Regions from separate parts of the Homo sapiens genome. Here regions 2 and 3 are each reported to be linked to region 1. Evidence: microRNA targets listed by miRTarBase, many of them from high-throughput screens and not tested one by one. Region 1 holds a microRNA gene; each other region holds the end of a gene's coding sequence.

What was found. Region 1 holds the annotated microRNA hsa-miR-4742-5p (UCAGGCAAAGGGAUAUUUACAGA, at 1,365-1,387, shown strand). A microRNA usually pairs through its seed, bases 2 to 8, with sites in the 3' UTR of a target mRNA and lowers its output. Matches are read on the target gene's strand: a 7mer-m8 pairs with bases 2 to 8, a 7mer-A1 pairs with bases 2 to 7 and ends in A, and an 8mer does both.
Region 2: the mRNA of RBPJ is a reported target of hsa-miR-4742-5p. Seed matches in the 3' UTR shown: 7mer-m8 at 1,817-1,823.
Region 3: miRTarBase lists SLC18B1 as a target of hsa-miR-4742-5p. Seed matches in the 3' UTR shown: 7mer-m8 at 971-977.

What each region holds. Positions count from the first base shown.
Region 1 is chr1:224,395,676-224,399,675 of GRCh38, reverse strand. MIR4742 (microRNA 4742) reads left to right here and starts at 1,365; the gene lies at 1,365-1,449. WDR26 (WD repeat domain 26) reads left to right here. Exons shown (of 14, transcript NM_001379403.1): 10 at 642-787; 11 at 1,083-1,161; 12 at 1,450-1,579.
Region 2 is chr4:26,429,937-26,434,292 of GRCh38, forward strand. RBPJ (recombination signal binding protein for immunoglobulin kappa J region) reads left to right here. Exons shown (of 11, transcript NM_015874.6): 9 at 1-117; 10 at 483-586; 11 at 756-4,356. The coding sequence ends at 1,071. Among named protein-coding and RNA genes, the nearest start is that of CCKAR, 58 kb to the right of the region's middle.
Region 3 is chr6:132,766,353-132,770,708 of GRCh38, reverse strand. It overlaps SLC18B1 (solute carrier family 18 member B1), which reads left to right. Exons shown (of 14, transcript NM_052831.3): 14 at 373-1,339. The coding sequence ends at 439. Among named protein-coding and RNA genes, the nearest start is that of VNN2, 11 kb to the right of the region's middle. RefSeq lists an enhancer at 2,344-2,503.

The sequences.
Region 1 (4,000 bases):
GCGTGCAAGATGATCATGTATGTTTCTGCTGAGTTTGCTGTCCTATACTGTGTTAAGCCATCAAGATACAGGATTATCTAACTTATAAAATGGGAAGGGTTGTTCCTCTCAGAACTTTGGATATTCAATGAGATAATGACTATAAGAGCTTTGATCTGTAGAGCACATTACAAATTTGGTAAATTTTTGAAAAATGTCATTAACAGATTCCTCCAGTCTGTATGAAGCTGTAAAATGTTTTAGAATCTTTTTCCATTTCACAACTCCTAAATATTAGGACAAATTCCAGTATAGTGAATTTTAAAGGAACGTTTAAATTGTTTTTGAATAAAAGTAAGACCTTACTTGGAACTTAGGGACTGTTTCTTTCTTTGTGTTATTTATGCATGGTGAGTTATTGAAGGGAAGATAGAGCTACAAAGTGTCTCTCTGCTTTCCCTTAAGTATGGTTGTAATGAAATTTGAACTATATTCAAATTTTCATGGTTAAAAACACTTCTAGAACAATTAGGTTGAGATCAGTCTCAGGAAAAAAAAAAAACCTGTTACTAAAAGATATTGTGAAGGGAGTCTTTTGGTTCTTTATTTGCTTTCTGAGTGCTGTTGAGTAATGAAGTTAATAGTAGTTTTTTCTTACTCAGGACTTAGATGGTAATCTCCTTGACTCCTGGGAAGGGGTAAGAGTGCAATGCCTTTGGTGCTTGAGTGATGGAAAGACTGTTCTGGCATCAGATACACACCAGCGAATTCGGGGCTATAACTTCGAGGACCTTACAGATAGGAACATGTAACTATTTTTTGTTTCCATTAAACAACAATTACCTGATTTATATTCAAATGTGTAGTGGAACTTGCCTTTTCACAGTTTTTATGTTTTTCGTTTTGGTTTGCGTGGTAATTTGGATTGAAGGTCACATGGTACTTAGTAATCAGTAACTCAGATTCTTCTCAATTGAAGTATAGTATGTAATAGTGATTGCAGGCAAAATTGTCATACTTAAGCTAGCACATCTTATGTATTGATAATTTGAATGTCTTGACTGTTAATATGTTGTTTTTGACAAATTATTTTCTGGTTCCAGAGTACAAGAAGATCATCCTATTATGTCTTTTACTATTTCAAAAAATGGCCGATTAGCTTTGTTAAATGTAGCAACTCAGGTATGTTTATTAGTATAATTTTCTGAAAAATTTGGCTTAGTACAAGTTTTATTTTAACTGTTATTTTCAGTGTATTTATATTAACAAAATTTTCTACTTACCCTTAAATTTGATTGCATGTGATTGATCCTTAAATGTGTATAATCAACCATAAATTTGTCAGAATGTTGGTATTTTGCATAATAGAAAATGAAGATATTTCATCAGGCAAAGGGATATTTACAGATACTTTTTAAAATTTGTTTGAGTTGAGGCAGATTAAATATCTGTATTCTCCTTTGCCTGCAGGGAGTTCATTTATGGGACTTGCAAGACAGAGTTTTAGTAAGAAAGTATCAAGGTGTTACACAAGGGTTTTATACAATTCATTCATGTTTTGGAGGCCATAATGAAGACTTCATCGCTAGTGGCAGTGAAGGTAAATTGTGTCCTTATCAGTTTACATATGTTGATATTAAAGTCTGTAAATCTCAATTTATGAAGGCAGTCATGTCTCCAAGAAAATTCAGGGTAGTAAGTTAAAATTCTTTCATTTATCCAATACACGGTTAATTTCTCTCTGTAATGACCTAAGCCCCTGTATTATCACAAATTGTCACATGCTGTCATGTATTACTTTCTCCTTTTCTGTAATGACCTAAGCCCTCCATATTGTCATGTATTGTCACGGATTAGCAGTGCTTATTCTGACCACGTAGCAGTGTGTTTGGTGCATGTGTCTAATCAAGATTTAGTTAAATTATTATACTTTCATATGTTGACTTGTATTTTCATGGGACTGATGGTTTTTAAGGGTTGGTAGTATCTGAAAAATCAAGGTTAATTATGATGCTCTACCTGAACTTGGACAGATTTGACTATAGTTAGTTCTTCAGTATTTCTTCAGCGGTCACCAGAGTTATAATTGAGTTTGATAATTCTTAAGATTTTAGGAAAGCTGAAATTATTCTTCCTACTACTACCCTTTTGAATAAACTTGTTCTCTAATCTAAAAGTGTCAGTATTCCAGACAGGAATATGCCTAAAGTCACTCTAAAGTGTGAATTGTTTAGAAGATGCAAGCACAAATAAGTGAGGCAGTAATAAAAATTAGTGTACTTTTTAAGGCGATAGGAACTTAACTAGTGGCAAATTATTGCAAGTTTTTATTCAACACATTTTTCTTCAATACCCACTGTACATTTCTAGGTACTATAAAAGCAAATTATTTAAGTCACTTTTTTTGGCCGGGCATGATGGCTTACACCTGTAATCTCAACACTCTGGGAGGCCTAGATGGGAGTACTGCTTGAGGCCACGAGTTCCAGACCAACCTGGGCAACATGGCTAGACACTGTCTCTACAAAAAGTAAAAAAATATATACTGAATCTGGTTTTATAAGATAGACCAAGGAATTAGATTATGTTATGTTCCATTTATTGTATAAGATGTTTACTATCCCTATCTTGACAAAAAACTGATCTTGGTAGATAAGAGGATCATAAAGTGCACATGAGGTTTACCTTTAAGAATAAGGCATATTTAAGGATTGGGACAAAGAGAGACATTTAGAGATTTAGATTTTAACATCAAGCATATAAATTCATCTATTCCTTTTCTTTTCTTTTCTTTTCTTTTCTTTTTTTGAGTGCAATGGCACGATCTTGATGCAACCTCCACCTCCTGGGCTCAAGCAGTCCTTCCCTCCTCAGCCCCTCAAGTAGCCCCAACAAATTTTTGTAGAGATGGGGTTTCACCGCGTTACCCAGGCTGGTCTTGAATTCCTGAGCTCAAGCAGTCTACCTGCCTCAGCCTCCTGAAGTGCTGGGATTACAGGCATGAGCCACCGCGCCCAGCCTGAATTCATCAATTCTTTCTTTCTACCGAAAATCAGCGTCAGATGAGATTGGGAGGAAAGAAGAGTGGTTAGGTAGCAATTGGGAATTTACTTTTTTCCAGTCAGGAAATTTAGTTTTTTCCACTACTTCTAGATTCTCTATTGGCTTTTTGTTTTGTTTTGTCTGTCTGTTTTTAATATATCGCGGGAGATAATAGACATTAGTTTCTAATTAAATTTTCCTGTGGTCTAAATATGTTAAGCCTTCTTGCTTTTAAATTCCTCCTGTTTATAAGATGTCTTCTTCCATGGTCTATTCAATCCTGCTTCTGGTAGGTTTTCTTTCTCTTAATTATGCCTGAGAATCCCTTACAGCTCTTTCTGTGTACCCTAGAGGTACTTAAAATTATGTATGGCTACCATTATCCCTAGAAAAGCCAAACTTTTTTTTAAGCCCAAACTAACTTAGAAACAACGATGAATACTATAATTAAACCACATTATCTTCTGGTTTAGGGCTACAAATTAGACCACTGTCAAGTACAGAGATTAGTCTTCTCATGACTCAAGTGATTTAGAATGGTTTTGAAAATGTTTTGAACATCAATCAGATATAGCGAGTATATTATCTCCCAGGATGACCACAGTAATCCATTTGCCATTTATTTGTAAGGAATATATTTCAATGACCCTCCAAATCCCCAAATATATAAGTGCCAGTATAAAATAGAGCAATTAAAAACCGTTTCCCAAAAAAGTTATACCACTACTCAAGCCTTTTCATTGTGCTGGCAATATGTAGAAAAACTGGACTTTTTTACCTTTGCATAAACAATAGATTTCTCAGATTGATACAGCAAACAGAGCTTGATGATAAAGCCTGTCATTTTGACCTTGATTACTTCAAACCCGGTTTTTCCTGCCTTTCACCAAATGTGCTCCTTGAATATATATTCACAAAAACATTTTCCACCAAATAGAGAAATATTCAATTGCATTCACACTTTAACCCTGTGATCCTT
Region 2 (4,356 bases), not on the chromosome of region 1:
AATGATGGCGCTTCCTGGACAATCATTAGCACAGATAAGGCAGAGTATACATTTTATGAGGGAATGGGCCCTGTCCTTGCCCCAGTCACTCCTGTGCCTGTGGTAGAGAGCCTTCAGGTGAGAACGCCTAGTCCAAGTTGGCCTTCAGCTCTTTGCAGCTACTCTCAGCTGTGACCTGGCATCATTTCATTTCATGGGAGTTTTGATTTTTCTCCAATCGTCTGATTAGGGGATTTTTATATACACCATTTGTTGATTTAAAGAAAAAAAAACAAAATTAGGAGGAGCGTACTTGCCAGAAAATTTAAATGTAAATAAACTTGTATGTTATCTTGAAATGTTTTTAGCTAGCTTTGTAATAAAAAACATTTTAATTGCCCTTTTTTAAAAAAAACAAATGAAAGTTGAATGAGAATCTAATTTGTGTACTTTAATGAAAAATGAAAAGTTTTCTCAGTGTTGTGATTTTCTGTGAATTGCAGTTGAATGGCGGTGGGGACGTAGCAATGCTTGAACTTACAGGACAGAATTTCACTCCAAATTTACGAGTGTGGTTTGGGGATGTAGAAGCTGAAACTATGTACAGGTACTTGATAAAACTTTTTGCATCATCCAGAGGTTGTGAGGGGTGTGGGTACAGGAGATTCTTTCCTGGCACTGATTGTAATGTATTAAACAACCTTGTGTTAAGTCTCATTTTTAACATGTACTTTGCTTTTTAAAGTGTTTTTAAGTGATTTCTATTTCCTCCTCAGGTGTGGAGAGAGTATGCTCTGTGTCGTCCCAGACATTTCTGCATTCCGAGAAGGTTGGAGATGGGTCCGGCAACCAGTCCAGGTTCCAGTAACTTTGGTCCGAAATGATGGAATCATTTATTCCACCAGCCTTACCTTTACCTACACACCAGAACCAGGGCCGCGGCCACATTGCAGTGCAGCAGGAGCAATCCTTCGAGCCAATTCAAGCCAGGTGCCCCCTAACGAATCAAACACAAACAGCGAGGGAAGTTACACAAACGCCAGCACAAATTCAACCAGTGTCACATCATCTACAGCCACAGTGGTATCCTAACTACCGTCTTTTTGCTAGGACTTAAACTGACTTGAGTGTGGCAAAAAGTTAACAAAAAAGGAGAAAAAATGAACAATCGTTTGTGGTTTCTTGGGAAAACTTTTCATACCAGGTGATACTATTCAAAAACCCCGTTGTCTCCCTGCAAGTGCTGATTTGAAATGCAGAAGCCACAGTAAAAAAAAAAAAAAAAAAAAAAAAAAAGAAAAAAAAATCAAAATGTATAAATATTGGAAATCAAGTTTTTCAGCTGTTTTGTTGGTTGGTTGGTTGGTTTTTGTTTGGTTTTGTTTAAATGGGCAAGAAGTAAATAATGTGGCTGGAATACAAGTTGAACAAACTAGAAGACACAAATCTAACATAGTTTTTATGGACCAAGGAACTTGTATATTGTATAAGCTTTAGTAAAAGGTACATTTTCACCATACCTTTTTTTATATCACGGTATTATAGTACACCTTGTTACCAAATAGGTTGTTCTCTTCCCCACCCACCTTTGAGCTTTTGCTCTAAAATACATTCAGGTTCCAAGCCTGACCATCCTTGTTTAATCTATCATACTCTTCCAGGTTTTTTTTTTTTGGTCTAAGGCTGGAACTTTTTTCTTTTTTTTCAGCTGAAGTCTTATGACTTTTCATGAGTCAAAATTGTTTGGATTTCAGCAAGTCAAATCTTGCAAAGGCCTGCATATTTTTTTTAAGATTATATGAAGTCTGTGCAAAAGCTTTAAAAAAATGCCTCTGCCTTGCCTGCAATACATGCAATGTATGTTAACTTAGTCTCTCTTCTCAGACACTGTTGGTAGTTATTTCTGTGTTTTCCTTTTTTTAAAAAAAAATATGGACTTATTGTGGTTATCTGAGAGGTTCTAACATTCACATGCAATTTGGTGTGGCCATTTAGCTATTAATGAGTTAATGGCGCAGAACTTGTTGATATTTGAAGTGTTCTCTCCCCTTTTCCCATGACGTAAATACATAGGTGTGTTCCAGGATTTGTTCAGGTTTTTCCCCCCTCCTAATCTTGTACATAACTTGTATTATGTGTAAGTTAAACATTTTATTTTGAACTTGGAATGTTCCCAGTGATTTCATTCAGCAGGGTATTTTCTGCCTTGTTGGCAAGTGACAAAAAATATGGGAAGTATTTGCTACCAGTTGGTAGATGGTGCCCTTAATGGTAGAATGAGGAAAATGTCCGCAAAAGCATGTTTTATTATCTTTACTTTTTTGGGGGGTTGGAGGGGGTAGCCTAGCCAGAACATCATTGTAATCTTAAAACATAAGATGCTTTTATTAGATGATCAACTAAAATAGCTGGAAGACAGTACTTTAGAAACAGATAGTTGTAAGATTATAAAATGCAAATGTAACTTATGTTTTCATTTTTTTCTCTGCCTTTTTTGTTTGTTTGTTTTCTCTTTTCCAGTACTGAGCATCTCCACAAATGTCTCCTAACTCAGAAAATGTTTCTTTTCTTTTCAGTTGAGATTTGGTTGCATTCAGGGTTGTAGGTTGGCCTTGCTTGCTAACCCCGCCGGTTTTACCGTGCTTTCATTCCTGAACTTTGTTTATGCCTTTGTTTGGTTTCTTCGAAATTGCAGCAGACTCATTGGGCTACATTTAGTACAGGAACCACGTGTGTAATGTTATACAACACAGTCTAGTAATACAATCATCCCTCTTAGAGTAAAAACTACCTCTAGATTGTGGTAAGCTTTTACTGTCCCATAAAACAGGAGCCACAGTACCTTATGAATGCAAAACTGTAACTTCCTACAGTGTTTCCCTACAGAACATTGTCTTTCTGGTGTCCTGGGCTGTTTTGAAAAAGTTTCCATTAATAGACTTTTTAGAAATTATTATTAGTAGCATTTTTTTTCCAGCTTTGCTGTCTTCATCACTCACTCTATGCTCAGACTATGCCACTGTAAATATTCTTCCTAACATCTTTAAATCGCCTTTTCCTCAGTTTTCAAGGGGAAGGTCATTTGTAAAGCACGTTAGGTGGTTAAATCAGTTATTGCGGTTTTCTCTTACTGCAAGCCTTTTTAATCACCCCCAGGCTGCATTTTATTCTATATCGCCTTTTTTCTTCAAATCTGCTCCAATCACTCACTTCTCTCTTATAAGCTAATCCTGCCTCACACCTTAAATCTGTTTCAGTGATCAAGGGCAGAACTCATTGTGGCCTTATCTTTCTTTGTTGTAATTGTTCACTGTCTCTTTCTTACAGACCACTTATTTCTGAGTAGTAGTTATTCCTCTCTATGGAGTCATGGCAGGAATCATTACACAGTGCTTTTGTTCAGAGCATGGACATGTTCCTAGTGCTGCTTTGCTTTAACGGCCACAAGTTTCCTCCACTTCCTAGGTTTGGTATTTAGTTAAGGAATCATATTAAATTAACCAATAACAAAAGAGATACTTTTGAAGAACAAACTATTCCTTACCCATTTTTGTAGCTCAAAAATAATTTTTCAAGTTCATGACCTTATTAAAATGAACTTGTGTTTTTTTAACAAACATGTATGTTTTATTTTGATAGTTTCTTTCCGTAAGATAATTGAAATATTATACTGTAAACCCTTTTCTTTTCTTTTTTTGAAAAGTCCAAGAATGTACTTATACAGGCATTTTTCCCCACCTATTTTTGGCCATTCTCATACCACAGACTAAAGAGTGAAATGATTTGTCCATTGTAGCTTATTGTTTATCAGTAGTTCTTTTGTCAGCTGCTTACATTTTTTCTTTCATGGTTTTGTGAATCATTTTCAGTATGTAATTTATAGGAACCTTGTCCTCTGGTTATAGTAGACTGTGTGCCCTCCTCCAGTGATGGCATTATTAGACATGCTGGTCATTTACCCTCAGAAAGACTCTCTTATTAGAATGGTGAGTGCTTCAGTTATAGTATGTTTGAATTTTTAAAAAATTCTGTTTTAGAAATGTATCTTATGCTCTCATGACTATGCAGTTTCTAAACATACACATAGAAGCTGAGTCTCTGATCCAATATGTTTTTATTTGTTCCATTTAATTTATCACATAGATTGGGAAGGCAAGCTAAAAGCCTTAAAAATGCCCTTTATATTTTGAGTGATTTCAGCGTTGAACACTAGTATACTATCTAAATTTGCTGCTCACTTTCTTTAAACTGTGGCAATTAAAGGCATGTTTATACATGACTTAATCGTGAAATGTTTGTCACTCTTACTGCACAGACTTATCTGCAATCATAACTGGTTAGTTTTTTTGTTTTGTTTTGTTTTATTGTTTTTAATGA
Region 3 (4,356 bases), not on the chromosome of region 1:
ACTGGCATGCAGTGGCACAATCTCAGCTCACTGCAACTTCTGCCCCCCGGGTTCAAGCGGTTTTCCTGCCTCAGCCTCCCACGTAGCTGAGATTACAGGCATGGGTCACCATGCCCAGTTAATTTTTGTATTTTTAGTAGAGACAGGGTTTCACCATGTTGGCCAGGCTGGTCTCGAACTCCTGACCTCAAGTGATCCGCCTGCCTCTGCCTCCCAAAATGCTGGGATTACAGGCGTGAGCCACCATGCCCGGGCAGTAGAAACTTTTTTAAAAAGATAGTTGGATGGAGATACAGGTACTGGTTTTTTGTTTGTTTGTTTGTTTTTAAGATGAGAAATATTGAGATTCATCTCTTCTTTCCCTCAATGTAGGTCTAAATCTCAAAACATCCTCAGCACAGAGGAGGAACGAACTACTCTCTTGCCTAATGAAACCTAGTCCGATGGATCCTGGATTGATACAAGGTTGAGAAATGAATGCTCCTGGCCTTAAACATCACCGTAGGAAGGGTTTTTAAAATTTTACGCGCAAAACTCCGTGGACCCCGTGCCAGTGTCTTGGAAGTGTCAACGTGTTTTTGGATGATCCTGTATTGGGCTGTACTTACTGTGATACTGAAAAGCTGTCCTGCTGAAGCAGCTATATTTGAAATATTAAGTATGAAAGGAGTAATTAAAAACAAGCAAAACAAAACAAGACTTAGTTTTTAAATGACCAAACTTGTCCTTAAAGATGTTGTTATTAACTCGAGTTAGTTCTTATTTCCTCTGTTTATTTTTTATTCTAAGTACACTGATTCTGTGAATGTACCTTTTTTATTAACAGGGAAAGAAATGAATTAATTTGATATGCTCTAAATACATAAAGGTGCTTCAAAATATGTAGAAACATTACTATGAAATCAGTTTTTAAAAGATATACTTTCTCTTTGTCCTGAGGTTTTTCGGTCTTGTTCAAAAGGAAGAATTCTTGCCTGCCATACAGAAACTCTCTAGCACTCCCTGACCTTAAGCTTTTCTAAAAATTCTGTTTGTGTGAAAAGTACAAGAATAACAATACTTACAACTTCCATTTTTGTAACCTACGTTCACTTATGATCTGGATTTATAAACATTACTTGGTATAACGTTTTTCATTTCCTTTAATGTCTCTGTTTTTTGGCTCTACCATCTGTTTTGTTTTTGTTTTTATCTATATCTTGGTAGATGTATTTCATCCCTAGAGCAGGTCAGCCTCCTTCCCCTAATGCGAATGCTTGTTTTGTTAGGGAAGGGCTTCCTCCAACTTCGTGTGAAATTGTGATGTTGAAGTGAATAAATGTCTATTGTGTAACTCTCATGCTTCTTGGTCTATTTTCATGGTGTAGTAGCCACATTTACAGTAATTTTTTTAAAGAAGAAATGGTTTTATCTATTCATTCAAAAATATCTTTTGAATGTCTTCTCTGAGCTGACACTATGCCAGATGCTAGGGATTTGGCTGTGATCAAGATAAACACAATCTCTGCTTTTATGTAACTTATACTGGTGGAAGAGACGAACAATAAATAAATATCAGACTCTCCAATTATCTTACAGAAATGCTAAGAAGGAAAAAAAAACATGGTGATGTGATAGAGTAGTTGGCTGGGTTTGTTTAGATATGGGTGCCTAATTTGAAAAAGTCCATGGAAGTGCGACCTTTGAGTTGAGATCTAAAGGAAGAGGATGTAACCACCATTCATTCTGACAGGGGACAGTCCGTAGTATGTGCACAAGGGCTTGACATGGTCAAAGATGAGGTTTGGTCTGCTGGCTGGAGTCTAGTAAACTGGAGGCGATGCCAGAATCTGATTCACATTTCAGAAAGTCCATTCTGTCTGCATGTGGACAGTGAGTGGGGATAGGGACGGTAAAGGGAATGGAGGGGGAGCTTTGGAAGATTTGAGAGAGACAATAATGGTTTGGACCAGGGAGCTTGTGATGGAGAGAAAAGGCTCTATCTGGGAGTGGAACCAACAGAACTTGCTGATGTGGAGGGAGGAGAGGGGAATCTAGGAGGACTCCTAGGTTTTGGCTTGAGGGTGTGGGTGGATGGTGGTGACTCTTAGTGAATTGGGGAATAGGAGCAAAACGGATCCTGAAGTGGCAAAAGTTCAAGCCACCATGGGATGTCATTGCACACCACCAAAACCAAAAATATGGAAAAGGAGGACAATACCCAGGGTAGGAGAGGATGGCTTTGGAAGACTGCCTGGCATTGAGTGTCAAGACTGGATGTACATCTGTCTTGTGATCTCTTCATTTCCCTATCCCCTCAAACCTTTCACTCTTGAACCTCCAGAGGGCGATCCAATGTCTGAGGAGGACAAATGGCCTGCAATTCCCTTCCCGGAGCAGTGCCAGGACAGAGTGTGACCCTGGCCCCCTGCACCCATGTGGCATGCAGATCTGGGCCTTGATTGCCTTAAGTCATCCTGGCCCCCTCCAGGACTTTTTTGACCTTCATGTCCACCCACGCAAGGACAGCCGCCCTTCCTCAGCCCGGTGGTCTTGGATGCGGCTGAGTGCCTGCAGTCCCTGCCACTGTCACTTGGGGCCACTATTAAAGCATGAGTCTGCAGCTTGCACCTTCCTACCCACTATCTGGGCCAGCCTATTCTGTTACCAGCACAGTTGATTGTTGAGAATTCAAAGTCAACGCAAGGATTCGAGGCTCTCTGGGGAGAGAACTTCCTTCATCCCCATTCCCAACACACGGCTCTCAATACTTCCCTTGGATAGCAGTGTATTTAAAGATGCTATGTACAAAACCAAATTTACTCCTTTCTCATTTTGAAATTTTGCAAGTATTAAGATAAGTGGGCCGGGAGCAGTGGCTCACGCCTGTAACCCCAGTACTTTGGGAGGCTGAGGTGGATGGATCACGAGGCCAAGAGATCAAGACCATCTTGGTGAAACTCCATCTCTACTAAAAATACAAAAGTTAGCTGGGCATGGTGGTGTGCGCCTATAGTCCCAGCTACTTGGGAGGCTTAGGCAGGAGAATTGCTTGAACCCGGGAGAAGGAGGTTGCAGTGAGCCGAAATTGCGCCACTGCACTCCACCCTGGTGACAGAGCAAGACTCCGTCTCAAAAAAAAAAAAAAAAAAAAAAGTCACAGAAAAGTTTAAAAAATATGAGAAAAGACAGAGGAAAGAACACTTTGAACAAGAAAACCAAAAGGTAGGTCAAAACTATCAAAGGAAATCTCTGTGTATGTGTTTGTATTTTTATATATTTATAGTCTTCTAAATGTAACAAGGCTGAGCAGCTTAAAAGAACCTTTTTAATAATGAGAATATTCTATATAACTGAATGTGGAATATGTTAGTAATAAAAGGAATCTTTTATGTTAAGATCATATTGCAACCTATACATTATAATATGATACATAAATCAATCCAAAGGAAAACTAAAAAGGTTAAATACAAATCACAGATCATTTTTAAAAATTAAACTTTAAAAATTTTGAGATAATTGTTAATTCACATGCAGTTGTAAGAAATAATAGAAAAAGATCATGAGTATTCTTTCCCTGGTTTTCACCAATGATAACATCTTGCAGAACTATAGTACAATAGCACAACCAGGATACAGAACATTCCCATCGCCACATTCTTCACGTTGTCTTTTTGTAGCTACACCCACTTCCCTCCCATCTTCACTTCTGGCAGCCACTAATCTCTTCTCCATTTCTATCATCTGGTCATTTCAAGAAACGTATAAATGAAATCGTATTGTATGAAACTTTTTGGATTGGCTTTTTTCAGTCAGCATAATGCCCTTGAGTTCTATTGGCATTGTTGCATGTATCAATAGTTCAGTTCTTTAAATTGCTGAGTAGTATTCCATTGGGTGGCTTTAAGACACAATGGAATACTACTTTATTTGTTACAAATAAAGCAGCTATGAACTTTCAGAAACAGGTTTTTTGTTTGTTTGTTTGTTTGTTTTTGCCAGGGGCGAGGGTAGAGGGTGGGATATGAAGCATAAGACTTCACTTCTCTGGAATAAATGCCCAGCAATACAACTGCTGAGTTGCGTGATAATTGCATGATTAGTTTGTTTTCAACTAACTCATTTATTTTAGATAAGAAACTTGATTTTGACAATAAATATTAAATATCACGCATTAATGAAATATCTGGTCAGCCATGGTGGCTCATGCCTATAATCCCAGCACTTTGGGAGGCCGAGGTGGGCGGATCACCTGAAGTCAGGAGTTCAGGACCAGCCTGGCAAACATGGTGAAACTCCATCTCTACAAAAAAATACAAAAATTAGCCGGGCATGGTAATGCCAGCTACTCAGGAGGCTGAGGCAGGAGAATCGCTT